4 separate regions of the Homo sapiens genome follow, and regions 1, 2 and 4 are each linked to region 3. The links come from fine-mapping of genetic effects on gene expression. A gene starts in region 3. Each other region holds a variant in brackets. All regions are shown on one strand. Distances are from middle to middle. Region 1 overlaps CYTH1 (cytohesin 1). Region 2 overlaps CYTH1 (cytohesin 1). Region 3 holds the start of CYTH1 (cytohesin 1). Region 4 overlaps CYTH1 (cytohesin 1).

What was found. PIP is the estimated chance that this variant, and not a neighbour inherited with it, causes the effect.
Region 1: its variant is the best candidate, but not a certain one, in a credible set for the expression of CYTH1 in cerebellar hemisphere (GTEx, PIP 0.57).
Region 2: its variant is the best candidate, but not a certain one, in a credible set for the expression of CYTH1 in whole blood (INTERVAL, PIP 0.61).
Region 4: its variant is the best candidate, but not a certain one, in a credible set for the expression of CYTH1 in monocytes after LPS (Fairfax 2014, PIP 0.62).

What each region holds. Positions count from the first base shown.
Region 1 is chr17:78,667,233-78,674,897 of GRCh38, forward strand. It overlaps CYTH1 (cytohesin 1), which reads right to left. Exons shown (of 14, transcript NM_004762.6): 14 at 6,816-7,665. Among named protein-coding and RNA genes, the nearest start is that of SCAT1, 39 kb to the left of the region's middle. RefSeq lists enhancers at 1-272, 273-883, 884-1,493. The variant G/A (reference allele first, on the strand shown) is at 3,655.
Region 2 is chr17:78,693,553-78,700,179 of GRCh38, forward strand. It overlaps CYTH1 (cytohesin 1), which reads right to left. Exons shown (of 14, transcript NM_004762.6): 8 at 5,268-5,416; 9 at 4,717-4,828; 10 at 2,455-2,457. It also overlaps the pseudogene RNU6-638P. Among named protein-coding and RNA genes, the nearest start is that of SCAT1, 65 kb to the left of the region's middle. The variant C/G (reference allele first, on the strand shown) is at 3,917.
Region 3 is chr17:78,778,189-78,785,853 of GRCh38, forward strand. CYTH1 (cytohesin 1) reads right to left here and starts at 4,085. Exons shown (of 14, transcript NM_004762.6): 1 at 4,014-4,085. The coding sequence starts at 4,035. RefSeq lists an enhancer at 2,087-2,186, silencers at 3,205-3,604, 3,865-4,144, 4,185-4,344 and a cis regulatory region at 6,870-7,289.
Region 4 is chr17:78,684,900-78,692,564 of GRCh38, forward strand. It overlaps CYTH1 (cytohesin 1), which reads right to left. Exons shown (of 14, transcript NM_004762.6): 11 at 7,518-7,594. Among named protein-coding and RNA genes, the nearest start is that of SCAT1, 57 kb to the left of the region's middle. The variant A/G (reference allele first, on the strand shown) is at 4,125.

The DNA of each region.
Region 1 (7,665 bases), 110 kb before region 3:
GCTACAAGATGCGTTTGGGTGTGGACACAGAGCACAGCCAAGAGCAGGTGTCCCTGAGAACCCAAACATCCTGGGGAGGCCCCGAGCACTGGGGCTCCCTGCCCCACCCAGGGCAGGACGTGAGCAGGACCTTTTGACATGGAGGCAGAGAAACACTTCCCAAGAACCTCAGAGGGTGGGCTTGGGAGGGGTGGCCAAAGCTCCTCCCCCCAGGCCACCGCTTCATGCGTGGAGTTTGTATCCTGCAGCTTTGCCAAATCCACTTATTACCTCCCCGTTTTTTTGTGTGTGTGTAGAATCTTTAGGGTTTTACATATATATATGTGTGTGTGGGGGGTGTGTGTGTGGGGGTGTGTGTGTGTATATATGTGTGTGTGTGTGTGTGTGTGTGTGTGTGTGTGTATATGTAAAATCATGGCATGGCAAACAGAGATCATTTTACTTTTTCCTTTCCAACTTGGAGACCTTCTTTTTCTTGCCTAATTGCCCTGGCTAGAACATCCAGGACCATGTTGAGGAGAAGTGGCAAAAGCAGGCATCCTTGTCTTGATCCTGATCTTAGAGGAAAAGCTTCCAATCTCTCTCCGTTGAGTATGAGGTTGGCTGTGGTGTTTTCATAGATGGCCTTGTACTGTGACAGGTCCTCCACCAGGTTACTTAAGGGCATATGTCTGCTGCCTGAACCCTGAAGGCCACATGGTGAGTCCACGCCACGGTGCCCAGCCAAGGAGTAGGTGTCCCTGAGAACCCACACAGCCCAGAGAGGATCTGAGAACCCGCCAAGGAAAAGTCCCATGGCACACACACACAGTAGGCAAAGAGCCAGAAAATCAGCGTAAAAGCAGCCTAGAGATGGGGGCGGCGTGGATCTCTCGAGCTGTCCTGCTGCTGTCCGGCAGTGCCCTGTGTGCGGGTCCCCATCAACTCTGCTACTCACCAGGCTGGACTTGCCCCAGTCCTTCTTTGGGGCCTGGGAAGGAGGGGACGATACTGTCTCAAGTGTGTCCCGCAGTAGGCCTTGCTTGTGTTGAAAGGGTTCCTTCTGCGCCTGCCCCGTTGGGTGTATTTCCTGGTGGAGTTTCATTTCGTCCAATGCTTTTCCTGCATCGATGGAGATGATCACCCCGTTTTCTCCTTCATTCTGTTAACGGTGTAGATCACACTGGTAGATGTTTGTGGGTTTGTGGCAGGCCAGGCTCACTAACGCAGGCCTCCATAACAACTGTTTCAGCACTGACCACGTGGTGAAGTTAAATATTAAAAGCCGGCCGGGCACGGTGGCTCACGCCTGTAATCCTAGCACTTAGAAGGCCGAGGCGGGCGGTTCACGAGGTCAAGAGATCGAGACCACCCTGGCCAACATGCTGAAACCCCGTCTGTACTAAAAATACAAAAATTAGCTGGGCATGGTGCCACGTACCTGTATTCCCAGCTACTTGGGAGGCTGAGGCAGGAGAATCACTTGAACCCGGGAGGTGGAGGTTGCAGTGAGCCAAGATCATGCCACTGCGCTCCAGCCTGGCGACAGAGTGAGACTCCATCTCAAAAAAAATTAAAACAAAAATAAAAGCTGAGAGAGCTGGCCCCCTTATACAAAGGCTGGGATGTAACAAAAGCCTGCCAAGAGTTTTGCCCAGGCCTTTCCTGGGCCTTAAAGCATGAAAAATAACAAAGGAATTCTTAACATGACCCGTTTAGGACTAAACAAGTTTTACTGAGGCCATGAACCACAAGCCCTTCCCCAGGTGGACCATTGGGAAGCCACATGTGACCAGTAGGTGGTCACTCATCTTTCTGCAGAGCTCCCAATGTGACCAGCCAGCTCCCCACCTGCCGGCCATTATAAGAGTCATCCTCTTCTTGACACCTCCAGAAGAGAACCTGGATTTCCAGCCCAAGTCTGTCCTTGTCGGCTGCCCAGGCCCAACACTTAGGACTCATCCTGATTTCTCCTTCTCCCTCCATTTCTACCTCCAAGTTCTGCTGCCCCTCCCTCGAAGGCACATCATGAATTTTTAATTGTCCCCTACACCTCTCTCACGGTTGTCCCAGTACAATCCCCATCACCCCCAACTGAGTCATGTCACAGCCTCGTGCTGGCACTGTCCTCCCCCAACAATTCTCCCTCCAGCAGCCAGAGTCCCTCTCCAGCCCCCAAGCTCCACGCCACCTCAGACGTCCCCTACCATGGCCCTGGTCCCGCTCCATCTGGCCCCTGCTGACCTCTCCTCTGCATCCCCTGCCACCCCAGGCCTTAGCCAGCCCATCCCAGCAATTCCTTCAGGATCCCTCCACCCCACCACTAGCTACCCTACTCTAAGCGGCGCCCCGGGCCCTTGCCTGGTGGCCTCCTCTTCAGCTCAGCAACCTCTTCTCAGTGGGGCCTTCCCTCATCAGCCCGTTCAAGTTACCTCCTCCGCTTGCTCTTTCCAATAGCCGCCCACCTGTTTGCTCCTGGGGTTAGCCCCCCACACCCCGGGATCACTTCACTCAATTTTCTCATGTCTGCTCTACCCAGACTCTGAGCGCCAGACACGGGTTCTCACTGCTCCCAGTCTCCACCTTTGGCGGCCACAGCCTTTCTGCCGACCTAGCATCCATTCTCCACCCTCTGCTTGCCGGCGTCCGGCCCACGGTACCCCAACTGTGTCTGCAGGATGTGTGCCCAGCCCCAGTGAGGCATCAAATGGGCCTAAGCGGAGGATTGGCTGAGAGGTGGAGACGAGACCCAGGGTGATGCTGAAACGTAAGGACACGTCTGCAGGGAATCCGGGGAAAGACACTTCCTCCTTGATGAAGGGAGGCAAGCATGGGGGGCCCTGGCTGCCCCTCGCTCCCTGCTCCTCCTTCTGAGTGCCACTGTGTGAGGATATGGTATCCCCTCCTTCTAACTGTGCCACGACCGGGTCAATATGAGTGTTCCAGGAGAGCGGAGGAGGAGGAAAGCTCCGGGTTACATCCCAGGGCAGCCGAACAACCTGGAGCGCACATTTGGGACTTCCTGTTCTTATTTGTGTCCTCATGAGTCATGTCCCCACTAGGTGAGCTCTCTGTGACGTGCAGCCTCACGCGCACTGACAGGCATGAAGCCCAGCGCTGGGCGCATGGGACCTGCTCCATCAGGTTAGAAGCAGGGAACAAACGCCTCACGGCTCCTGCTCCCAACACAACCATGGAGACAGGCACGTCCGCATAAGCCATCCCAGAACCGAGTGGACTCACTGCTCAGGAGCACGAGGAGGCCCTTCAGCCTGGGGAAAAAGCTGGGCCAATCTGGACGGCGCAAGGCTTCGAAGAATGAGAAGGTTTTGCACAAACAGGCTGGCAGAGGAGATGGCAAAAGGAAGTCTCATGAGCAAAGCTATTAGCTATTAAACGGTGGCTGTGGAGCAAGAGCTTGGGACACAGGGCAGGGAGGGCGCAGTTAAGGATAGAAACAGCTAGAGATAAGGCGAACAGAGCCTGGTGGAGAAGGCCTTGAGCATCATGCAGATTCACGTTCTCTTCTGCAAGCAAAGGGACAGGTTCTGTTTGCTTGTTTTACTAAATGGAGGAATGACATGATCAGTAGATGAAAATTCCACAGCCGCATCAATCACGGAGTAGAAGATGGCAAAGCCTAGAGGTCCGCAGACCAGTGGGGAAGCCACCCCC[G/A]CGGGCCAGGCCTGTGATGAAGGTCTTGGGGCGGCGACAGTGGCTGGAGGAGCCACTCCAGAGGTCCACAGGGAGGGCTTGGGAATGCCTGGGTGTAGGGAGAGAGGGGGAGACACATGAGAAAGGGCTCCAAGCCTACACAGGCTCTCTGAGGGTGGCAGCAGAGTCCCCAGGACAAGGGGCAGTCTTGGGGCTATCAGCTGTGGACAGGCTGAGCTGGGGAGGCCCGGCAGCCACTCTGGTGGAGACGTCCCACAAGCAGTCAGAGGTGGAAAGGGGAGCCTGGAACGGGCCGGAATTGCACAGGCACACATAGGGGCCCACAGCGGGTAGCAGCAGGGTCAGTCGCGGGACTGATTATCTGTCAAGGAAGAGGGCTTAGGAACACTGGGGGCTAGAATCCTGGGGGATGTCCAGCAGCTGGCGGGTGGGCAGAGAGGAGAGGCCAGGGAAAGAACGCACAGGGAGCTGTCAGAGAGGTAGGAGAGCCCAGGTAGACTAATCCACCAGAGCCAAGAGGAGAGAGGAGGGGGACCCCTGGCTGAGGAGTGAACGAAAGTGAGGACATAGATGCAACGAGGAACTGTCGGAGTCCCTGTTAGCAATGCAAAATGTTTGTTCCCTGGTGTCACAAGGAAAAATTAGCATTCAGACAAAAAGTTCTCTCAGCGAGGCAATTTTTACTTTCTGCAGAAAGGGTGTCCCTTGCAGATGGAACAATGGGGAGGGCACACACAGAATAAAGAGACGCCAGAATATCCATTCTATATGCATGAGGCCTCTATTGCTGTGTCCTGTCTCCATTGGCTGGAGCCGGACCTCACAATCTAAATTAAAACCCGATTGGCTAATAATTTATTCTCAAATAAGGAAGGAGCATAGGCTGTGAGCTGGAACATGCCTATGAGCACGTGAGCACAGATATCTTGGTTAAGGTACAAGGACATGGAATGTACTACGTGCCTTGAGCATGTCTAACAGCTACCTAGGATAGGGCTTAACAAAGAGTTATTAGCACAAAGCAAGGAGGCTTGAAGGAAGTTAGTCTTTAAAAGAAACTATTATTTCTAACACTTATGATTTATTCTTTAATAAGAAGGGAAACTTTGAAGAGGAAACTTTTTACTTTCTACAGTCCTGCAACCACACAAACAACTGCAGAGAAAGGCAGCAGCAGCAGGCCTCCTAACAGCCAAGAGGCGGAAGCAACCCAAACGCCCATAGATGAATGAATAACAACGTGGTCTCCATACGATGAATGTTATCTGGGCATAAAGGGGAATGAGGCTCTGACACACGCTACAGGGATGAGTCGTGTAAACGTAACGCTAAGTGAAAGAAGCCAAACGCGAAGGCCCATGTAGTGTATGATTCCATTTGTATGAAATGCCCAGAAGAGGCAAGTGCATAGACAGAACCATTAGGACTGCCCGGGACCAGGGGAAGAGGAGGAGAGGCTGCTGATGAGTAGACAGGGTGTGCTTTGGGGTGATGAACTGTTCTCAAATGGATTTTATTGGCGTTTTAATAACTTCGTGGATGTATTACTATTGCAGGATTTTTCCTTAGTTCAGCTAAACACCTCTTAAAGGTCCTACCTTTTCATACTGTAACAATGGCAGTTACATTTCAACATGAGTTTTGGAGGGAACAGATATTCACACTGTAGCTTTCTGCCACTGGTTCCCCCACACTCGCCAGTCTCAGTACAAAACGCATTCATTCCATCCCGACTGCCCCAAAAGTCCTAACTTGCTCCAGCACCAATTCAAAAGTCCAAAGTCCAGAGTCTCCTCTAGATCAGATATGAGTGAGACTCAAGGAACAATTCATCCTGAGGCAAATCCCCTCCAGCTGAGAGCCTCGAAATTTAACAAGTTATGCACTTCCAAAATACACTGGGGGACAGGCATGAGATAGACATTCCCATTCCAAAAGGGAAAAAAGGGCAAGAAGGAAAGAATAACCAATCCCAAGTAAGTCTGAAACCCAATAGGGCAGACATTAAATCTTAAGACTCCAGAATGATCTCTGACTCATCTTAATGTGATCCCCCAAGGCCAGGAGCAGCCCCACCCTGTGCTGGGTTCTGCCCATGCCGCAGCTGTCACAGGATGGCATCTAGTGCCTACATACAGCTCTCCCGGCTGGGGCGGCAAGCTGGTGGTCCCACAGTTCTGGAGCCTTGGGAGTGGCCCCGTTCCCATGGCTCAGCTAGGCATTATGAAGTCATGTTACCAGCCAATAAATGTAATCTCTCTTCTTTCCTATCTGGATGCCTTTCATTTCTTGCCTAATTGCCCTGACTAGAACCTCCAGTACAATGCTGAATAGAAGTGGTAAGAGTGGACATCTCTGTCTTGTTCCTGAGCTTAGGGAGTTTTCAAATGAGATGGGCGTTTCTGTGGTTTGAGGGAAAGAAATTAATGGGGAAAGAAACTGGGGATATGTATAAGACAAAGGATAATTGACAGAGATGGATCCAGGGGAGACAGGAAAAAAGCAGGCCACTTCTTCTGGCGATGGGAGGGAACAAAAACAACTCTGACTGATGTGGAAAGGTAGGAATGCTGCCCTTCACACCTAATGGTCGTCTCTTCTCAGTAAAGTGGGGCAGTCACCTGGGGAATGGTCAGGGTAGACTGGGGGCTTGAAGCAAGGAGGAAACATCAGGCATGACTGCTGCTGTGTGGAAGAACGCGGACCAGCCCGTGGAGATGGACCCACAGAAGGGGCCAGCCTGGTGCTTTGCTGTCTCTCTGTTCGGTGCTGGTTCACCAAGCGCCTTCCCCTGCTTCTGGGTTCTAGCCCACCTGAGACTTTTCCCTGTTTATTCCCTGGCATTATGAAGTCATCTCTGGAAACTGAAATCATACTAAAAATGTATTATATTGACTGAAGGCATATTTCTTGATCTTAATTTAAAACTGATGTTTCACGTTTCTTCTAAAAAAGTGGGGGCGGTGCAAAGACTAAGTTACTTATCTTTTCTGACTCTGCTCTTCTTAACAGAAGACAGAACCCTCCTCCCACTTTCAAGGTGTTACAACTGAACTCAAGGTGCAGCTGGAGTAACACCCTCCTGCACAAGTGTCCGGTCAGCACCCCTTTCCCACCTCGAGGGCCCCGCCTGAGCCCAGAGACACCGCGAACAACAAAGATGGCTTGGGCAGAGTTGGAGTTTATTTGCTGCAGTTCCTTGGCGCTAGTTTACAAGGCAAAAACAAACAAACAAAAACAATTAGAATAATTATTTCTTAAAAACCCTGTCAACAACTTTCAGTCATTTCTTTATATTTTTGTATTTTGACAAAACTTCTTTTAAACAAATACAAAATAATCTAAAAGGAGAAAAACTATACATAGATTATTTACACCTCTGATAAATAGACTAATACTGACCCAGGTGCCTCTCTGTCTAGGAAACACTTGAGAACCAGGCCAGGGCCCGGGCCAGCTGGACAGGCTCCAGCACCGGCCCAAACACGCCCAGACCTCGGCAGGCACCACCTGGTTCTCCCACCCAGAAAGTTCAGGTTTCCAGCCTGGACCCTCTTCTGTCACCCTCACAAGCTCTGGCACAAAAGTGCCTAAAGCCATTCCCTCCAGGTAGGATCTACACAAAGTGGCGGGGAGGGAGGTGACAGACTGTCCCCCTCTATTCCTCCCACCACTCCTCTGCAAAAGCTATTTCCAGAGATGCTCGCCAACCCTAAAGGATCAGAGGAGCCGTGGCGACGCGGCCCTGTGAAAACCCGCAGCTCCTCCACCTGCCTCCTCAGGGCTGCGCCCTGCACCGCCCTGGTCCAGGGTCCTGTGGAGGGGCGGGGCGAGACGGCCAGACAGCCAGCCACCTGCTCTGCCTGGACTGGCATGCTGGCCCTGGCGGAGTGGCAGGAGCTGCCCTGAGAGTCCCTGAGAGAACGGCAGGAAAATGCTGCGTGTCACGGCTCCCTTCATACTGTAATGAGGAGGGGCAGGGCCAGCTCACACAGCGCCTGCAGGGGAAGA
Region 2 (6,627 bases), 85 kb before region 3:
GGAGGTTGCAGTGAGCCAAGATTGCACCACTGCACTCCCGCCTGGGTGACACAGGGAGACTCCCTCTCAAAAAAAAAGAAAAAAAAAAGAAAAAAAAAAAAGTTGGGGTTGGGGCCGTGAAGTTATGCTGAGACAGACATGAAGGAAGGAAAAATTTCCCCAAGCCTATCTGAATGAAGCTACACCTGCTGTCAAATCGGGACCACAGGCTTTCTCTTCCTCCACCTCTCTCCCATCAAGGGAACATTTTCTGAACATGAACCACTCAAAACTTATCCCTAAGGCCTTGACCTGTGAAGCTATGCATGGCATTCTAGAAACACTTCTTGTGCCTGCTCTTTTGCTAAGACTTAACCTACAGACAATACCGCTTCTCCAATCTTCCTAAATAGCAAGGATCATGGGGCATAAATCTCATACCTCCGATCATGCTTTCTCTCTTGCCCTCATCACAAATAGCTGAGCAAAGAGGAGAATGGTTTTACAGGGATTATTCTAACTGCCAGGACCTGCCTGCATGCTCACACCAGAGAAACCTAAGGGGAGTATGCAAATAATGTTATGAAAAGAAAATGTCCAGCGTAGGTCCTGGCAGACAAGTAAAAGGACCACTGGACTTTCAGGCCAGTTTTTAGCACCCTGCTTGGATGCTGAACCCTAGGCGGGCTTACGTGACTGATCATTAATTGCCAAGATTCCAAATGACACAGATCTAGGTTATGCGAGGGAATTTGCTGTAAGCAAGCACGTGCCCTCCACCTGCCCATCCTGTGCTATATCAAGCAAATTGAGACTCTCCCTCCAGTAACTTCTAAGTTTCATGTGAGCCCTTGCCACTGGTCCCTAAAGGTTAGATGGCATGAATTAAGAGAAAACCATAAATGGATACTATGACATGCATGTGGAAAACAGGAAAGCCCGGGCAGAATTAAATAAGGAGGATAAAGAAGGCAAGGACTATATTCAGGATTGAAGCCAATTTGTTCTTAAAAAGGAACCCCCTCCACCAATTCAGAGTCTGAGAACTTTGGTCTTCCAGCCTGGCGGGCCATTGGTTGCCCACGGAGGCTCGGCACAAAGGGAACATCAACCCATGCTGACCTCCCATGCGCTCCATCACAGGACACTACCCGGGGAACCCTTCGGACATAGGAGATCATGGAAAAAGCGAGTCAGATGCTAAAAGAAACAAGATGGAAAGAAATCAAGGAGAAAAAGCAAAGCCAGAAGAAATTCTCTGCCTGATTACAAAAGCTTGGTTATTATGCCTGGACAATTTGTTGCATTACAGAGACCTCTACCATAAAGCATCACTGTGGGCCCACGGGGAACATTTCCACGTGGAAAGAAAAGCAGACATGAAACAAGCAGACAGATCAATGTGCGCCTAGGACAGTCCCTGTGGAACTCACAGGACCACCTCCCACTGCACGGCTCCTCAGGCCTCCTGTGACCTCCCCGAGACATCAAGGCCGGATGCCATCTTCCCCTACAGTTGAGAACAACCTGACAAGTCCCTGAAGCATCTCAGTAACTGTGCGTGTTTGGGGTTGTTCTTTTTAAGTGTAGCTACTGCTCAGGGAATGCTTAGGCACAAACCTGAGGGGTCTTGGGCTAAGAAAATATGTTTCCCCAAAAAAACCAGCAAATGGAGAGGAGACACCAAAACCATAACCAGGAGACCGATTCGGGGCTTTAACGAGGACTCGCTGAAAAAGCGAGGGAGCAAAACAAAACATAACAACAGAGCCGAGGCTGTTAATACCCTTCTCTGATCCCCAGGAAACTAAACACGAGGACTTCAGGGAGGGTTTTTTGGTTTGGACTTGTTTTTTTCACCTTCACTCGGTATCATTTTGAGTTTAGGAAATACCATTTCCCCTTTTCGTGCAAAGGCAAATGTCTTAAGTATCATCTAATTTAGTTCTTTCCCTAGTTTGCTTTTCCATCATGGTAAATCAGAAGCTTTCCATAGCTTTGGGAAGTCAAGACTTTGTTCTCTCTGGAGTAAGTCTCAGCTTGAAAAAAGAAGAAAAAAGAAAGACTTCCTTCTCTTCTTTCTCCTCTTCCCCACGTCAGAGATTAACTTTCAATCAGGCTGATTAATGGACGTCAAATTGAATATCAAACATAGCGCATGTCTTAGCCAATAATTCCAAGTGAAAATGTCATGGAAACTTCCTCTGCTTTTACAAACCCACTCTTAGTATGTTTTCTTGCATTACTGCATTCAGTAATGAATATAACATATACTCCTCCAAAAAAGAAAAACGAAAATTGCTCCAAACCCCTGATCCTGACCAGTTCCCTAGGGACTGTACAATAAGTTAGAAGCAGCATTAACACTACCACCGGCAATTAAAAAACAAAATAACCAAAAATAACGAAATCAGAAAATGCTGCAGTAATGACAGTGGCCTAGCAGAGCGAGCGAGCAGGCTGAGGGTTACATACCTCCTGGAGTTTGGGGCAAGGAAAAGGAGAGCCAAAATCATGGAAACATACAAATGAGGGAGAAAAGAAAATTAAAACAAAGAAATTAAACCCGATTCCTTAATCTTAAAGTGCAATGTATCAGTCACATTCATGCCTGCCTGGGGAGAGAGCTGAACTAAAAACACTCAACGGGCAAATGATCCCACTACTGTCTGGCACGTGAACGAGGGGCTCTTACATGCCACGTTCCACCTCATCAAGGCAAGATTTGAGGCACTACTGGAAACCTGGCCCCAAAGATGCCACAAATCGGCTTTTACAAAGCCAATGTTTACTAGTATATCCAGAATCAGAGCAAAGAAAGCTAAGGTTATTTCAGGGAAAATTAAATGTCTTTCTTGAGATGGCTGTCACTTTTTAAAGTGTGTGTAAGAATGCACACACATATACCCATGAGTACACATGTACTGATGTGTATACACAAGAATACACATTCTTATGGCTATATGCATACACAGACATATACACACAGCTACAGACGGCTGGAAGCCCTGCCTTCTGCAGCACATAAACACAAAGAGTGATACTAAGTGTGCTACAATGAAAACACAATATTCAGAGTCTAGAAGGATTTGATGGAGGTTTAGAAAAAGTAATGCAATGAGCTAAAACTGAGTCCCACACTTGGTTAAATTTTCTCTTTTTTAAAATACGAGATGCCTCATGAATTTGCATGTCATCCTGGTCTAAGAACCAAGATAATCTTTGTACTGTTCTAATTTTAGTATCTGGGCTGTCAAAGCTAACACTTAGTATTAGCATTTAAACAAATCTCGCTGTAGGGGGAAGTAAATCCAAACTTGAACACACTTTAAACGTTTCCAGTAGGTTTCCTTTCAACTCCATCCACTTGGCAATAGGAATGTGGAAGGGAAGGCTGCCTATGGGGTTAGTAATTTTAGAGCCTTAACTTCAAAGATTCTGGGGGCTTAAAGATATATAAAATGATGGCCAATTCAAGAGATATTTAAAACTGATCGGTGAAGTGGTGCTGTAAGGGGAATTTATGAATTAAGTCATTATGTATAAGCACAAGGACTTGGGATATGACTTTAAAAGGAAATATAAAGTCTACTGCTATCTGACCTAGTCAGAAATAAAGGATTCCATTTTAGCCTTCCCAGATGTGTCAGTAATGACCAAGAGAGTACTGACTTCTAATCACTGGGGCAAGCAGTTGGGCTGGTATAGGACGGAACAGCCCCTGCTAATGTGAGAACCCAACTCATCAAAGGCTAAAGCAGAAGGCAACAGAGGAAAGTACCCTGCTAGTGTCCAAAAAAAAAAAAAAAAAAAGGACATCATTATGTCCAGAGAGTCTAGAGCTCTATGTTCTGAAACCATTAATAAAGTAAACACATGTGGACATGAATGTGTATGAAAACCCTACTAAAGTCTTTCCTATTGATTACCCTGTCAC[C/G]TTCACGGCAAGGCATGACCACAAATCTCAGCAATACAAGCTCATCACTTCTGGCAAAGGGAAGAGAAATGCATTTTCAGCTTTTCTAAATGAACAAAATAATTAATGTGGCTGATTCAGATTGAAAAGGAGGGGAAAAAAAAAAGAAAAAAAAAAAACCACTGCCCAAGAATGAGTAAGAGTGCTGTGGATTGAGCTGCAGCCAAGGGCTCTAGGCTTGCCATGCACACTGCCTGTGGGGGAGCCAGATGCAGAAGGAAGTGACGATGCACTGGGGTGGGGGCAGGAGCGCCAGGTACAAATCTGTGGGATGGGAAGTAGAAAGATGGACAAGGTCGGCCACCCTCCCAGTGGTTATGGGGACAGGGAAGGCAAACGGACCAGGTGCTCAGGGAACTGCCTTGAAACAAAACCTGGTCAACCAATTCAAGGGTAAAAATGTGGAGCACAGACACATGTGGGCAATATTTATGGTGGAGTAAGTCTGTCCCCAGTAGTCTCTGTGTCCCATGGGGGCAATGACTATGAAGTCACTTCCCTTTTGGAAGCCGACCTTTGTTAGAACAGAACTCATACCAAAGTCTCTCTGGAGTCCTCTATAAGCCACCCCCTTTCCTACATGGTGCGTGTGTGTCCATGAATGTGTGTGAACATGCATGCGCGTGCACACACACGCACGCGCACACATGCACACGCACAAACACGCACACGCGCACACACGCACGCACGCACACACGCACACACACCGCCTTTCTTCCTAAGTCTCAGCTTTAGGAGCCCTGACTCAGAGGTGCGCTTACCGAGTTTCAATAGCCAGCCTTCTCGGTCTGGATTGAAGAAAGTGTGAGTGAGGTCATTCCCGTCGTCTTCTGGGATTTTAAAGGGTTCATTTTTTATGCTCTCATAGAGATTCTGGGATAAAAGATGACAATTTATGTCTCTGATTCTAGAAATATTTTTTCCTCCTCCCCTTTCTCTTCATTCATTCCACAAGCATTCATGTGCCTATAGTAAGCCAAGCCTGCTAGATGCTGAGACTAGAAGATTATGACCATTTCTGCTTTCAGGCAGCTCACAGTGACAAAATAAATAAGCCTTCCCAATTAGGAAAATAAAGAAGCAGCCTGACTTCTATTCAAGCTTTTAGTTTCATGTTTACAAACCACTGTCCCCTCCCTGATTCCCTAGCTGGGCCTTACTACCACTTTCTTAATGAAATTCACATGGTTAAACAAATTAAAAGAGGAGACCCTTGATAAATTGTATGTTTTTTCTTCCTTCCTACAAAAGACGATCCTGTTCCCAGTGAACTCTTTCTTGACTTGAATGAAGACCATTCTTCCTTGCTTACCCGGAGGAGCTCCTCCGGCAGGTCTCCCCCATCATTGATGCCTCGGTTCATGGCAATGAACCTCTCCACAGTGGGCTTATCTTTGACATTGGGGTTGTGCAGACTGGTGTTCAACATGATGATGGCAAAGGAGAGGACGTAACAAGTATCTAAAGATGAGAGAAAAGCAAAGGGGAGCCGTTGCATGCTCAGATGTTCAGAAACATCCCACCCGCAAGAGCAAGAGTGGTATCAGATGAAATCAGGAATAAAAAACCATGTTCTCGGCCAGATGCAGTGGCTTACACCTGTAATCCCTGCACTTTGGGAGGCCAAGGCAGGCAGATCATGAGGTCAGGAGTTCAAGCCTAGCCTGACCCACATGGTGAAAACCCGTCTCTACTAAAATACAAAAATTAGCCAGGCGTGGCTGCACGCGCCTGTAATCCCAGCAACTTGGGAGGCCGAGGCAGGAGAATTGCTTGAACCTGGGAGGCAGAGCTTGCAGTGAGCCGAGATAGCGCCACTGCACTCCAGCCTGGGCGACAGAGTGAGACTCCATCTCAGAAAAAAAAAAAAAAACATGTTCTCAAAAGAATGAGATGAATCCACATGTACGGGTACACTCCAGGGCACACTGCTGTCTGAAAGGAGCAAGGCACGAAAAAGTATATAAAGTATTCAAGACTTAAAGCTGTTTATTTTTTCAGATTGGAAAGGAGAATACACACACTGTAGAAACTCTGAAAAACACAATGTGTTTAAAACAAAATGACCTGTAATGACCCATAATCCCACTATCTAGCAATAATTTATTTTGCTTTATTTCCTCTACGTAAATATGACTATGTATAACTCACCACATATTTATCTCACAGATATATACTGTAACAAAACTGGAAACAAACAAATACATACACATGCTTTTTTGCTAATCTTAATATCATTCTCCTATGTCAATAAAAATTCTTTGTAACAATATGGGTTTCTTTAGTTTTTGTTTTGAGACAGGGTCTCACTCTGTCACCCAGGCTTGGAGTGCTGTGGTGCAATCATAGCTCACTGCGTGTAGTCGTAAACTCTTGGGCTCAAGAGATCCTCCTGCCTCAGCCTCACAAATAGCCGGGACTACAGGCATAAGCCACCACACCTGGCTAATTTTTAAAAATTTTTTTGGAGAAAGGGTCTCATAATGTTGCCCAGGCTGGTCTCAAACTCCTAGCCTCAAGCAATCCTCTCACCTCGGCCTCCCACCCAAGGTGCTGACATTACCAGTGTGAGCCACTGCATGCAGCTAAAACATGGTTTTTAATAGCTGTGTATTTCGTAGTTCAGAGGTACCACAATTTAAATTCATAGTGCCTTAATGTCAGACTTTCAG
Region 3 (7,665 bases):
CCTACTCAGAAAGCTGAGGGAGAATCGCATGAACCCAGGAGGTGGAAGCTGCAGGGAGCTAAGACTGTGCCACCACACTCCAGCCTGGGTGACAGAACAAGACTGTCTCAAAAAAAAAAAAAAAAAAAAAAAGGGAAAAAAAATTAAGGTTTAAAAAGTTTATTTAGGGCCGGGCGTGGTGGCTCACGCCTGTAATCCCAGCACTTTGGGAGGCCAAGGCAGGTGGATCACTTGAGGTCAGGAGTTTAAGACCAGCCTGGCCAATATGGTGAAACCCCATTTCTACTAAAAACACAAAAATCAGCCGGGTGTGGTGGCAGGTGCCTGTAATCCCAGCTACTTGGGAGGCTGAGGCAGAAGAATCACTTGAACCCAGCAGGCAGAGGTTGCAGTGAACCAAGATTGCGTCACTGCATTCCAGCCTGGGCAACACAGTGAGACTCCATCTCAAAAAAAAAAAAAAAAAAAAAAAAGAAAGAAAAAGTTTAATTAGGCCTGGCACAGTGACTCAACCCAACACTTTCAGAGGCCAAGGCGGGAGGATGGTTTTAGACCAGCCTGCGCAACATAGTGAGACTCTGCAACTATTTAAAAAATAATAATAATAAAAAGTTTGTTTAAAAGAAAACAATGGAAGTTCTGAGGTGACGTCTGAACACGTCATGTTATATGCTTTATGAATCCATCACACACATTTCCTTTTACAATGTGGGATCTGGTCAAGGTAAATTCTCTGTGAAACCTATGAGGGAAATGGACAGTTCTGGAGACTAACACAAACCTTAAAGAACTTGGGAGTCTTATTCTTCATATGATCATCTTACACCATCAGGTACTTTTTGTGTGGTGACCCTCTGGGTGGGGAATCTTCAATCTTTTTAGTTCCTCCAAAATAAAAGGATGATATTTAAAACTGTAGAAAGGGGAACAGGCCAGGCGGGGTGGTTCATGCCTGTAATCCCAGCACTTTGGGAGGCTTAGGCAGGCAGATCACCTGAGGTCAAGAGTTTGAGACCAGCCTGGACAACACAGAGAAACCCTGTCTCTACTAAAAATACAAAATTAGCCAGGCGTGGTGGCGCATGCCTGTAATCCCAGCTACTCAGGAGGCTGAGGCAGGAGAATCGCTTGAAGCTGGGAGGCAGAGGTTGCAGTGAGCCGAGATTGCGCCATTGCACTCCAGCCTGGGCAACAAGAGTGAAACTCCATCTCAAAAAAAAAAAAAAAAAAAAAAAGAAAGGGGAAGAATAAACTTACAAACTTTCTCATCTTCGTGTGTGGCAGACAGAATAACAGCCCCTAAAGAAGTCCGGGTACTAATCCCCAGAACTTGTGAATAGGTTACCTTACATGGCAGAAGGGGAATTAAGGTAACAGATGGAATTAAGGTTGCTAATCCTTAGCCTTGATTATCCAGGTGGGTCCCACTATAATCACAAGGATCTTAATAAGAGGGAGGTAGGAGGTCGAGAGAAATGAGAAGATGCTACCTGCTGGCTTTGAAGATGGAAAGGGGACTATGAACCATGGAACACAGGTGGCCTCTAGAAGCTGGAAAAGGTAAGGAAATGGGTTCTCCCCTGAGCCTCCAGAAAGAACCAGCCTGTCCGACACCTTGGCTTTAGCCCAGTGAGACCTATTTTGGACTTCTGACAGCAGAACCCTAAAACAAATGTTATGTTGTTTTGAGCCACCAGGCTTGTGGTAATATAACAGGTATAGGAAACTAACACGCCCTGCTTCCACTTACCTCTTTCAAGTACAAGTTCATGTCATGCCTGGTGGCAAAGCAGTCACTGTATTAAAAGCAACCAGACCAATAGCTTCCTGCCCACGGCAGCAGGCAAGAACACAAGAGAGGCCACAAAAGCCTGGTAGGCAGGACACTGGGATCTGAGGGAAATTAAATGGCAAGAGGAGGCAGAGAAAAGAGCAGCAGGCAAAACTGCTGTCGGCTTCTCAGCAGTGGGCAGGAGTGAAATCTGGAGGGGCTGAACAATCTTTTGGGGCCAGCCAGTGGGTGATTTTTCTTTTAATCACAAAAGGAGGCTGGGAGCAGTGGCTCATGCCTGTAATCCCAACACTTTGGGAGGCCAAGATAGGAACTGGAGTTCACACCAGCCTAGGCAACATAGGGAGACCTCCCTCTCTACAAAAAGAAATAAAAATAATTAGCAGGGCGTGGTAGCCCAGGCCTGTAGTCCAGGTTACAGGAGGGGCTGAGAAGAGAGGTGAGAGGATTGCTTGAGCCAAGGAAGCAGAGCGTGCAGTGAGCTATGAGAGCGCCCCTGCACTCCAGCCTGCGCAAGAGAGCTAGACCCTGTCTCAAAAACACAACAAAACAAACAACAAAAAAATGCACAAGCTGCTTTTACTTGTTTACTTATAAGGTAACAAGTGGGCTGGGTGTGGTGGCTCAGGCCTGTAATCCCAACACTGTGCGAGGCAGAGGTGGGAGGACTGCTTGGGTCTAGGAGTTCAAGACCAGCCTGGGTAACATGGCAAGACCCCATCTTTTAAAAAAGTAAAAAATTAGGGCTGGGCGCGGTGGCTCATGCCTGTAATCCCAGCACTTTGGGAGGCCGAGGCGGGTGGATCACCTGAGGTCAGAAGTTCAAGACCAGCCTGGCCAACATGGCAAAACCCTGTCTCTACTAAAAATACAACAATTAGACAGGCGTGGTGGCACGCGCCTGTAGTCCCAGCTACTCAGGAGCCTGAGGCAGGAGAATCGCTCAGCTCACCCAGGAGGCCGAGGTTGCAGTGAGCCGAGATGGCGCCACTGCACTACAGCCTGGGCGACAGAGTGAGACTCCGTTTCAAAAATAAAATAAAATAAAATAAAATAATAAAATAAAATAAAATAAAAAATTAGCCGGGCATGGTGGCGTGCGTATGGTTCCAGCCACTCAAGAGGCTGACGTGAGCTACGATCACGCCACTGTGCTCCAGCCTGGGTGACAGAGCGAGATCTCGTCTCTTAAAAAAAAAAAAAAAAGAAAAATGTCCCATTAGTTATTAAACTAGAATTGGGTTCCATTTGGCCACAGAGTTCTGCTTTATTTGTACTTTGCTACCAAACCACAAAAGTTCACCACTTGTTCTATTTGCCATTCTTCCTTTTAATTCCTCATGAACAAACTTAATAAATTAACTACAGCATGTCAAACAACCTTTTGCAACCCTTGCAATTTCAAACTCTTGGAGGGAGGCACCCCTGGCCTGGGCCAGCAGCCTCAACGCGCGGGAGCGAAGGGAGCGGGACAGCGGCTCCGCTTGCCAAGTCCCCAGTCAGGGGAGGAGCGGCGTCCCCACCGCGGTGCCCCTCGGGCTCCACACCCGCGTCTCGGCAGGCGGCGACGCACCGGACCGGCGGCTACCGGGCCCAGACTCCCGCGGGCAGGGCCGTCCCGGAGCCCGCGCCTCGCCGGCGGCGCCGCTCCCCGTTCTCATTTCTGAACAAAGACGTGGACCGGGCACAACTCGCTGACGCCGAGAGCGGCCGGAAACTGCGGGGAACGCGGGCCCGGCCATCCGCGCGTCCGCCCCGAGCCCCGCAGAGGGGCGGCAGGGCCAGCGACCTCCACCCCTCGGCCCCCCGGGACCCGGACTGCGACCCCTGCCCCGGGGACCCCAGCGACCCCAACGACTCTCATCCCTCAGAGCCCCTGAGATCCTGCCCCGCGACCCCAACGACCCTCATTCCTCAGAGCTCGCGGCGACCCCTGGCCCCGCGAGACCGCGAGCCCGGCCTGTGACCCCCGCCCCAGCCACCCACATCCCTCAGCGCCGCCAGCGACCCCGGCCCCGGCGACCCTCATCCCTCAAAACCCCCTGCGACCCCCGCCCCGCGAGGGCCCCGCGCACCGCTCGCCCGCCGGTCGCCCCGGGCTCCGCGTCCCGCACCAGTGTCCCCGGGAAACGCCAGCCGCCGCAAGCGCTGCCGGACGGCCGGGCCCGGAGGGGACTGGGGGACAGCGAGGGGGAAGCGTCCGCCGCCGGGGCGCACTGACCGTAGCTGTCGTCCTCCTCCATGGTGCGGGAGCCGGGCTCCGCGCTCCGGCTCGCCGCTCGCGTCCCGCCGCGCCACCCGCGCCCCCGCTCGCCTCAGCCCGGCTCGGAGCCCCGCCCCCGGCGCCCCGCGCCCCGCGCCCCGCCCGCCCGCGCCTGCGCCTGCGCCCGCCCCCTGCCCCCGGCCCGAGGCCCCGCCCCTCGCCCGAGGCCCCGCCTTCCTCCCGCGCGCGCCGCACCCCGGGTACCCGGCCTCCTCCCGAGGCTCCGGCCTGCGCACGCGCGTCCACCCGAGGCTCCTCCCCTGCCCCCGCCTCTAGACCACGCCCCCGTCCCGAGACACACACACCCCCCCCCCTTCTCCCGGTCCGCCTCCTGGGGCCGAGCAGGTTTCGGTTTCTGAAGGGCGGTGCAAGTCCCCGGGGTGGCGGACTCGACCTGGCCTGCAGCCAGGCTACTGCACGAAAGCCCAAGGTCGTGTCCGGCCACTGAAGGGCAGGGTGGTCCTTGCTGACGCCAACCTGGAAGGTCAGACCCGGCCCCAGCTTGCCAGGGAGGGCCCGGTCCTTGGCGAAAGGCCACAAAAGCTATTTGAAGTCATTTACTCCTGCGTTCAGAACCTTTACATGCTGTATGTCCTAAGTTTACTGCTTCTACTTCTTTTTATTTGTCCTGAGTTTTACCTGGGTCAAGATTGAAAGGAGGGCACTTCAAGTCCCAGCGTTTTGGATTTTATTTATTTATTGGAGACGAGTTTCGCTCTTGTTGCCCAGGCTGGAGTGCAGTGGCCCGATCTCGGCTCACTGAAACCTCCGCCTCCCGGGTTCAAGCGATTGTCCTGCCTCAGCCTCCTGAGTAGCTGTGATTACAGGCATGTGCCACCAGGCCCGACTAATTGTATTTTTAGTAGAGACGGGGTTTCGCCATGTTGGCCAGGCTGGTCTCGAACTCCTGACCTCAAATAATCCGCCTGCCTCGGCCTCCCAAAGTGCTGGGATTACAGGTATGAGCCACCGCGCTCGGCCTTCTCTTTCTTTATGACAGAGGACAATCCCACTGCTGCAGAATGCCAGCACCAGAACCCCCCTTTCCCCCTGCAGTCACTTGTGGCTCCTGCACCCTACACAGAACACTCACTGAGAACTCCACAGAGATCCCTGGACTGCTGGGAATTTTTTGGACCAACCAAAAAACGGGAGTAAAAGCCACAGAACTCTTTCCTTGTGGGCCCACCTGTCCTGAGTTTTACTATTTTTCTTTTTCTTTTATTTATTTATTCATTTTGAGACAGAGTCTCACTCGCTGTGTTGCTCAGGCTAGAGTACGGTGGCACCATCATGACTCCCTGCAACCTCTGCTTCCCAGGCTCAAGCAGTTCTCCCACCTCAGCCTCCTGAGTAGCTGAGACTGCAGGCACCGGCCACCATACCTGGTTAATTTTTGTATTTTTTGTAGAGACGGAGGTTGCTAGGTTGCCCAGGCTGGTCTCGAACTCCTAGGCTCAAGTGATCCTTTCTCTTTGGTCTCCTTCCTTGGCCTCCCAAAGTACTGGAATTACAGGCGTGAGCCACCACGCCTGGCTGGATTCATGATCTTAACCTTCACTGACTTTACCAGATTGTCCAGTTTTACAGGTGACCTTAGAGAGTCACATTTTGGCCCTAACGTGTCCTTGGGCTTCGGCGTGTGAGGTCAGAGACCCAGCTGCATTTTGTTCCTCTTGGCCTAGACTTAGGACACTTTTAGAATTGACCCCACATTGACCTGGCAAATCTTCTCAAACCATCTGTCACATGGGCTAATGGAGCACTGAGCCTCTCCCCCAGTATTTGCCATCCTCTGTTTCACTCCCTACTTCACTTCTAACCCCAGACTCACCAGAAGGTTCAAGGTATCTTCGAGCTGGCTTTCTTCCCTTATCAGTATGCAAGTCCCAGACCACCTCAGCTCTTGCTCAAAGACCAGAACTCCAGAAGAAAAGCGATTCAGATGGCATGTTAATTCTTACTATCAGCACTCTAGACCTCTTAGCTGAACTCACCAACTGAATAGATTTGGAGAGGGAGGGATACTGGTATTACTGCTAATCACAGATTAGCAGAGAACATGACTGTTTACAAATTCTGTTCCCTTATATTGTTCCATTAGACTGGTGTTTTTCAGCTGGGTGAAGTGGTTCATGCCTATAACCCCAGTACTTTGGGAGGCCAAGCTAGGAAAACTGCTTCAGGGCAGGAGTTCAAGACCAGCGCGAGTAACATAGAGAGACCCTGTCTCTACAAAAAATTAAAAATTGTCGAGCATAGCGGCACACGCCTGTAGTCCTAGCCACTCTGGAAGCTGAAGTGGGAGGGATCCTCTGGGCCTGGGAAGTTGAGGCTTCAGTAAGCTATGATTGCACCACTGTGCTCCAGCCTGGGGGACAGAGTGAGACCCTGTTTCCAAAAAAAAAAAAAAGAACAGTGTTTTTCAAACAGCGGGTCATGACTCTTAATGGTTATGAAACAAATACTTATTAGATGAAAAGAAAATAGAATTTTTAAAAAATTGTAGTCTATCACACATAATACAGAGACAGTGTTTGTTCTGGTTGCAAATGAATGCATGCATGTGTCCACTGGGTAGGGCTATCCCTGACCATGGATGACTGTCAAAGAAACACAGAAGCTACTCCATTAGATCACATTCATGATCAGAGATTTTTTTTTTTTTTTTTGAGATAGGGTCTTACTGTGTCATCCAGGCTGGAGTGCAGTTGCACATCTCGGCTCACTGCAGCCTCCACGTAGCTGGGATTACCACCATGTGCCACCAAGCCCAGCTAATTTTTGTGTTTTTAGTAGAGACAGGGTTTCGCCATGTTGGCCAGGCTGGTCTTGACATCCTGACCTCAGGTGATCCGCCCACCTCTGCCTCTCAAAGCACTGGGATTACAGGCGTGAGCCACTGCGCCCAGCCAGAGAGGTCCTTTAGCTGTTATCTTTGCATGACATTTGGAAGCCGAGGCTAATAGACATCCAAATGCAGCCTACTTGCAAGCAGGAGTTAAGTCAGTTTCACTCTCGTATCTTGTATTTGTGCCCCCAGCCCTTGGAGCGTAATGAGAAGGAGCCGGCGGCAGGGAGACAGGAACCACAGGACTCCACTCCAGCTGTGGATTCTAACCCAGACCTCTTCCCCCACATCCACTAATTCTTCACAGAACCTTTAAACTGGGTGTGGGCTCTCTGCAAGTTTCGCTGTGGTTTCTAAGTCCTTAGTGGTTGATCCACTTGACAACTAATTTTTTTAAGTTGGTAGCTCCCTGCGGTATTTGACAGTTTTTGGTTTGGTTTTGTTTTTGAGACAGGGTCTCACTCTGTTGGCCAGGCTGGAGTGCAGTGGCTCATGGCTCACTGCAGACTCCACCTCCCAGACTCCATCGATCTTCCCACTTCAGCCTCCCAAGTAGCTGGGACTACAGTTGCACGCCACCACACCCAGCTAATATTTTATTTATTTATTTATTTTAGAGACAGGGTCTTTCCATGTTGTCCAGGCTGGTTGTGAAATCCTGGGCTCAAGTGATCCACCCACCTTAGTCTCCCAAAGTGCTAGGATTACAGGCATGAGCCTGCTCCTGGCCACCCTCTGGTATTTTCCACTGTTCCTGGC
Region 4 (7,665 bases), 93 kb before region 3:
TGAAAACATTAAGAGGTCTGACCAGGCATGGTGGCTCACGCCTGTAATCCCAGCACTTTGGGAGGCTGAGGCGGGCAGATCACGAGGTCAGGAGTTTGAGACCAGCCTGACCAACATGGTGAAACCCCATCTCTACTAAAAATACAAAAATTAGCCGCATGTGGTGGCACGTGCCTGTAATCCCAGCTACTCAGGAGGATGAGGCAGGAGAATTTCTTGAATCCGGGAGGCGGAGGTTGCAGTGAGCCACTGCAAGATCGTGCCACTGGACTCCAGCCTGGGTGACAGAGCAAGACTCTGTCTCAAAAAAAAAAAAAAAAAAAAAGGTTTTACTTATTCTTTTAAAAAATACAACATGCTTCCATTTTAACAATATTTCTTGACTCTGCATTTTAAAAAGTACAAAATCTTCTAATTCTTCACATTGTTCCTCCTCCCACCTCCTGATTTTTATTATTTCACTTTTACATTGTCCAGGTTTATAACATTCATGGTACGTCCTGCAGCCACAATTTCTGGTTAATTAGTATTTGTTTTATATTTAAGCATATTTTAGTATTAGCTCTATATTTAAGTTTATTTAGCTATTACTTCTATATGAGTATATTTAGCTATTAGTTCTATACTTAAGTATATTTTGGTATTAGTTCCATACTTAAGTATATTTTCGTATTCTGAACTTAAGCATATTTTAGTATTAGTTGTATATTTAAGTATTAGTTCTGTATTTAAATGAATAGTTCAATGCTCACTACCAGTCTTTTACTTCCCAGGGCCTTTCTTGTGATTCATTCTCTTACGTGCTGGATGTTACTGTCAAGCAATTTTTTTTTCAAGAAGGTTCCAAAGTGCCGCATTTCACATGTTTTCTTCAGGAGAGTGCGGCCAGCTGTGCTTTACTTAAACAATAACGTGGCTGGATAAAGGGTCTTGGGTCATTCTTCTCTTCAAAACTGTGCAGACCTTGATACTTTAATTTCTGGGACTAAAAGCTGCTGGAGATGATCTGCTTTTTCCAACAGAACGACCAGACACTTGGCTCCAAGTTCAATGGTCTAAGGGGCCAGGCTTTGGAGCGACCCTTTCTGTAACAGTTTCCTGAAATACGGTGTCTTCTTTGATTTGCAGATTCAGGGCTTTTTCCTCTTTCTCAGGGAAATCACCTCATGCCACACTGTATCTTTGATTCTGCAGACACCAATTACTCTGGTATTATTGGGATCGTCTTCTGTTCTCTGCATCTGCTAGCTTTTCTCTCATTGTTTTAATACTTGTCTTTTTCAGATATAATCTCTGTGATTGGCTCAAGCGTTTAAGACATTATATTTATAGGACATGATTATATTTTCAGCTAATTTGTTCCACTCCTTAAAGTTTTAACTTACCTTTAAGAATAAATAAGTTATAATTCTATGATTATATATTAATGGTTGCACTGTAAGTATATGCTATTGCTTGGGTTCTCACTTGTTTGAAGACGGAAACCTTGCTTTTCTGGCCTTCCAGCTGGCTCTGGTAAATCTGTGAGTGACCCCTGGTTCTCCTCCTGTGAATCTCTGATCTGCTTGTGTCCCCCTAACCACTTACCCTGACCTGTGGTGGGCGGCCAGGTGTTCTGCATTCTAGCATATTATGCAGTCTCGTAGAGAATGGTGAGTGGTGGGAGAGCTCATCGAAGATACTCCCCGAGTTCTGGTCTTTCCTCTCGGATTGTAAGTATCCAACGTCAGGGTTTGCTCCATCTATCTGGGCAGCAGTCCCCAGCCTTTTTGGTACCAGGAACTGGTTTCATGGAAGACAATTTTTCCACGGACAAAGGCAGGGGAGGGAAGATGGTTCGGGATGATTCGAGCACATTACATTTTTTTAAGTTAATTAATTTATTTATTTTTATTTTGGGGGGCACAGTTTTGCTTTTGTTGCCCAGGCTGGAGTGCAATGGCGAGATCTTGGCTCACCGCAACCTCCGCCTCCTGGGTTCAAGCGATTCTCCTGCCACAGCCTCCCTGGTAGCTGGGATTACAGGCATGTGCCACCACACTTGGCTGATTTTTTATTTTTAGTAGAGACGGGGTTTCTCCATGTTGGTCAGGCTGGTCTCGAACTCCCAACCTCAGGTGATCTGCCCACCTTGGCCTCCCAAAGTGCTGGGATTACAGGAGTGAGCCACCGCGCCCAGCCTACATTACATTTATTGTACACTTTATTTCTATTGTTATTATACTGTAATATATAATGAAATAATTATACAACTCACCATGATGTAGAATCAATGGGAGCCCTGAGCTTGTTTTCCTGCAACTAGATAGTCCCATCTGGGGCTGATGGGAGACAGTGACACCCAACATGTGTTGCTTGTGTCCAGTCTACTCTGTAATCACTCTTTGGCTGCTGTCACTGCAGAAAACACTGCTTCACAAAGACAGGATGTTGGGCGTGGAAGCAGGCTTTCAGTGCTTTTGGGGCAATCTCAGGATATTCTGCCTCAACTTTAATCCAGAACATATGGAGATTTGAAGTTGTCTCAAACGTACTTTTAAGGCCACTGTCATTTGCGATCTCAAGCAGTTGATCTTCTTCTAGCATTGGCCAAGGTGATTCACCTGGCTTATTCTCAAATGGGTCACAGATCCATTCCTTTCCAGTTCAGGTTCTTTTGTGGTTGGGAAGTATCGCTCAAGCTCTTCTGAAAGCTGAGGCGCTGGGGCAAAGAAGGCCCTGGCTCCGTCTCTCACAATCTCTCTAATGTTTGAAACATGTCAGAAATCCCAGTGTTCACTCATCACCCCTGTAATTCCAGTTTGGCTTTGAAAGCAGCCACTTGATCTGCCGACTGGGACACACTTGTCACTCTCCCCTGAAGTGACAGATTGAGTTTGTGAGTAGGTTTAATCTGTCACACAAGTACACAAGTTTCCTGACCTATATTCTGTGTCACTGAAATGTGCTGCTAGTGGTGACTTTTTCTAGAAGAAATCTCTGAAGTGGCTGTTGCAACTCAGAAACTCTGGCCAGTGATGTGCCTTTAGAGAGCGTCTCACTCTGTGTATCACAGAAGCCGTGTGTGCTCTGCGTCCATCTCCTCCGAGGGCTGCATGAACAGACCTGAGTTAGGCCATGTACTTTAATGTGGTTGGTAATTTCAATCGCATCCTGCATAAATGTTGTTAAGTTCAGGTGACACTTTTTGGCTAGCCAGCACTTCTCTATGGATGACATACTGCATAGACTCACATTTAGAAGTGACCTCTTTGACCTGAGTAGTGAAACCAGAAAGCTGTCCAGTCACGGCAGCCGCTCCATCCATGCATATAACACCACAAAACAAAACAGTTCAGTTTCCCTGATATGTAATAATTCAAAGACTTGAATAGCAGCCGTGGTGTTGGTTGGCAACTAAAGCACACATAACATATCCTCATGAACATCCCCCTGAAAAATATGTCACAGAAGAACAAGCATTGTTGTCTTGTTGTCAACATCGGTAGACTCGTCAACCTGGATTGAGTACCAGAGTGACTCGTTAATCCTCTCTAACAATTGTGCCTCAATATCTGCTGCTGTTTCATCAATCTGCCTAGTTACGGTGCTGGCCGAAAGAGCAACATGTGCCACCTTTTGAACCACAGCCTCTCCTAAAAGCGCATGACAAATGTCCTTAGCAGCAGGCAGGATCAACTCTTCACCAACAGCCAGTCCTGGCTTTGGCAATGCGGTTAGACACGAAGAATGATGCTTTCAGCGCAGACATATTTGATGAAGTGGTGGCCTTCAATAATTGCTTCTGTTCTTGATGTTTACATTTTTTTCTTTTGAAAACTCCAAAGGCTTGTCTTTTGATGCAGGGTGCTTGGTCTCCATGCGGTGAGGCAGTTTTGAAGCTTTCATGGCTTTGTTGGGTAGTTGGTCACCACATATTCTACAAAGTGGGCTTGGCGAATGTGATCACCTGTTGAAATGAACCTAGAATTTGAGTAGAACTCTTGGCGTTTTCTTTACAATGCAGCTTTATTTTTGTTGGCAGTCTTGGCGTGTTCTGCTGTCTCATCAATGGGTCTCTCCCCCTTTTCAAAGAAGCTCTCCAGTGACGTTTGGTTTTTACTCATTTTGGCTAGGGTTGGTGG[A/G]TGGGCTTACCAAAACCATGGCTGAGACAAGTACACAGTGTGGGAAAGAGATGTGGATGGCAGTGGTAAATAAAATAACGGGCAGGCCATGCACGGACTGAAATAAGTGTTGGATTCTGACTTAAAGCCTGCCACCAGATACAGCTGTACAATTGAAGTACATCAGCTCACTTGCCACTATAAAGCCTGCCACCAGAGGCAGGCTAATTGTCACTTGCCACTCACTGATAGAGTTCTGATGAGTCTGCAAGCAACTGATGTATTATTATGGTCTCTGTGGAGTCAAACCTCTCTGCTAACATTCATCTGTACTTGCAGCTGCTCCCCAGCACTAGCATCACTGCCTCAGCTCCACCTCAGATCATCAGGCATTAGATTCTCAGGAGGAGTGCACAACCTAGATCTCTGGCCCATACAATTTACAATAGGGTTCGTGCTCCTATGAGAATCTAACGCCGCCACTGATCTGACAGGATGTGGAGCTCAGGAGGTGATGTGAGTGATGGGGAGCAGCTGGCTGTAAATACAGATGAAGCTTCCACCGCTCGCCTGCCACTCACCTCCCGCTGTGTGGCCTGGCTCGTAACAGGCCACAGACTGGTACCGTCCTATGGCCTGAGGTTGAGGACCCCTGTATTTGGGGATGGATATCATGCTCATGGGAGACCCTCCATGGACAGTCTTCCCCAGTGAATATACAGTCTTGAGCCTTTACTTATGTCTATAACGGCTGCTTTTTTCACTTTTCCCATTTCACCAATGTCCACCCAGCAGGGGATTTTACTACTCCTTGATCAGGGAGGAAAAAATAACAAGTCCTGTTCAGTTTGCCTCCTCCCAGACCTGAGAAACCAGCGAGACTGCCGGGTCTCCTCAAATCCTGGGCCGTGAGGTAGAAACCCTGCACACTGCTCCTGACTGCTGCCCCTGCCACCGCTGCTTCCGCTGCTGCCCAGGGCTGCAGTGCACTGAATTCGTTCTGCCCCTTCCCCTGCTTGGTTGCTATTTTTCCCTACTTATTTTTTTACTAGTCTTTTGCTCTGTTAGGTAATTCTGTGTGGAAGTTTCAATCTACCATCTTAATTCTGACAGCATCCTCTCTGTGTCTTAAGAAATGTATTCAGCACTTTGGAAGGCTGAGATGGGCGGATCACAAGATCAGGAGATCGAGACCATCCTGACTAACACAGTGAAACCCCGTCTCTACTAAAAATACAAAAAATTAGCTGGGCGTGGCAGCAGCGCCTGTAGTCCCAGCTACTCCGGAGGCCGAGGCAGGAGAATGGCGTGAGCCCGGGAGGCGGAGCTTGCAGTGAGCCGAGATCGTGCCACTGCACTCCAGCCTGGGCAACAGAGCGAGACTCCATCTCAAAAAAAAAAAAAAAAAAAAAAAAAAAAAAAAAAAAAAGAAATGTATTTACTGCTGGGTGCAGATCACCTGAGGTCAGGAGTTCAAGACCAGCCTGGCCAACATGGTGAAACCCCATCCCATCTCTACTTAAAAAACAGAAAACAAAACAAAAAAAAACGGATGTGGTGGCGCACGCCTCTAGTCCCAGCTACTCAGGAGGCTGAGATGGGAGAATCACTTGAACCCAGGAGGCAGAGGTTGCAGTGAGCTAAGATCACACCACCACTACACTCCAGCCTGGGAGACAGAGCGAGACTCCGTCTCAAAAAAAAAAAAGTATTTTTCTCTGTATTTCCATTGCTTGATAAAATGCTACACTTTGCTGAATAAATATTGCTGAATTAAGGATTAAGGTGACACCACTACGGTGGGCATCACGAAAAACCACAAGATTCTAGAATCTCGTAGCATTGCTATAGGATTGTCCAGGACTTAGAAGTACACCACTTAGATGCTTATGTATCATTTTGACCCAGAAAATAGCGAGACAAATTCAGACACGATGTTAAAGACATCGTTAGTGTAGGTGTCTTCAGAAAAAAGGCAAAATATAGGGCAGAAGGGTGAACAAAACAGAAAAAATTGTACCAAGATGTTCACAGTGGTACTTTGGGGGTGAAGCAGAAAGCAGCTTTCTTTTTATTATTTTGCAGATATTTGAAGTGTATTACTCTCATATGAAAAGACTATAACAACAGAAAAGCAAAGCCAGTGCAGAACTTGCAGGGCATGAGCTGAGCCCCTACAACATATGAAATCCCGGCCAGAATTCCCTTCACAGTGATTTACTATCCTCAGTCACCAAACCATCAGAAGCAGCGGCTCTTGCCTGCAGCCTGATGGGCTACGAAGTGCATTCCCTGGGTGAGAAGCTGCATGTGCATGATGTCCATGGGGATGGAGAACAACGCTAAGTGTTAGACACGACAGAAACCCATCTTCACACCTCACAGCAGAAAATGCCAAGGCGTGTACCTGTTTCTTGGTCCTAAATAAGTGACTGGTGAATATGGTCAGGATTTCAATGTTTTACTTAAGCCCCATTTTGCTCTAAACTGATTTTAAAAGATACTTCTGAGTCTTAATTTTCTCAGTGGGATCAATGACTTTTGCTCCATGAAGATACACTTGGAGAACAAAAGCAAAGCATTCTCAACTCAACGGCCTTGATTTACTTTAAGACAAAAGTTCGATGCCATGGGAGTATGCCCGCTTTGCCCTTACAATGACCAAGAAAGGTGGCAGAAATGAAAAAGCACCCCATCACCAGTCCGGTGAGCCACGGTCTCCACACCAAGTGCTAACTTGCCAGGGTTCTGGGTACCTTGCTTAGAGGGAGCTCTGAAAAGAGCTAATTTATGATTTTTACTTTCTTTGGCTATTATTACAAAAGAGATATACGTATATAAAACACAAATTTGCAGCTATAAGTCTCTCCCACTGAATAAAAACCAACAAAACTTCTTAAAACTCCAGATAATCTCAAATTGACTTTTCCCATTTCACTTCACTTCCTTTTCCCCCACTATATATTTTACCCCTTGGGCTGTTTCTTCTGAAATCACATTTCTGCTAACCCAGAATAGGTGAATTTTCTAAATCACGATTATTTCCTTTTTCTTTTCATCTCCCTTTCAATTAGGGCCACATACTCTTTCTCGGCAACCAATGCAAATTCATTCTTTCTAGCCCAGTTCCAAAACCCATTTCTAGTGCTCCCCCTCCTCCAGGCCAGGTATCTCCTGTCCCACCAGAACCGGGTGCCTGCTCTGAGCCCGTGCCCTTTAAGGCACGCACCTCTTCTCAGGGGTTCCCCATTCTGAGATTTACTTCAGTTCTTGCACTTTGCTTAAACTCTCCCCCATCCCCCACAGATACTGAAGGGCAAATCCAACGGTCTCCTCAACCATGTCTGATTAGAGACACTTGGAACCGGAGGCCTTGCCCATCCCTAGTCTGGAGGCCGACTAGCAGGTGCTCACCGTGGTATACTCAAAGTAGTAAAGGCAGTTGTCAGTCAGAATGAACCAGCGTCTCTTCCAAGTCTTTACCCTGCCACCTGCAGAGCAAAAAGAGATGCACGTTCGACAAGAGACAACCAGACAAGTGCAGGCTCCACGACACACACGA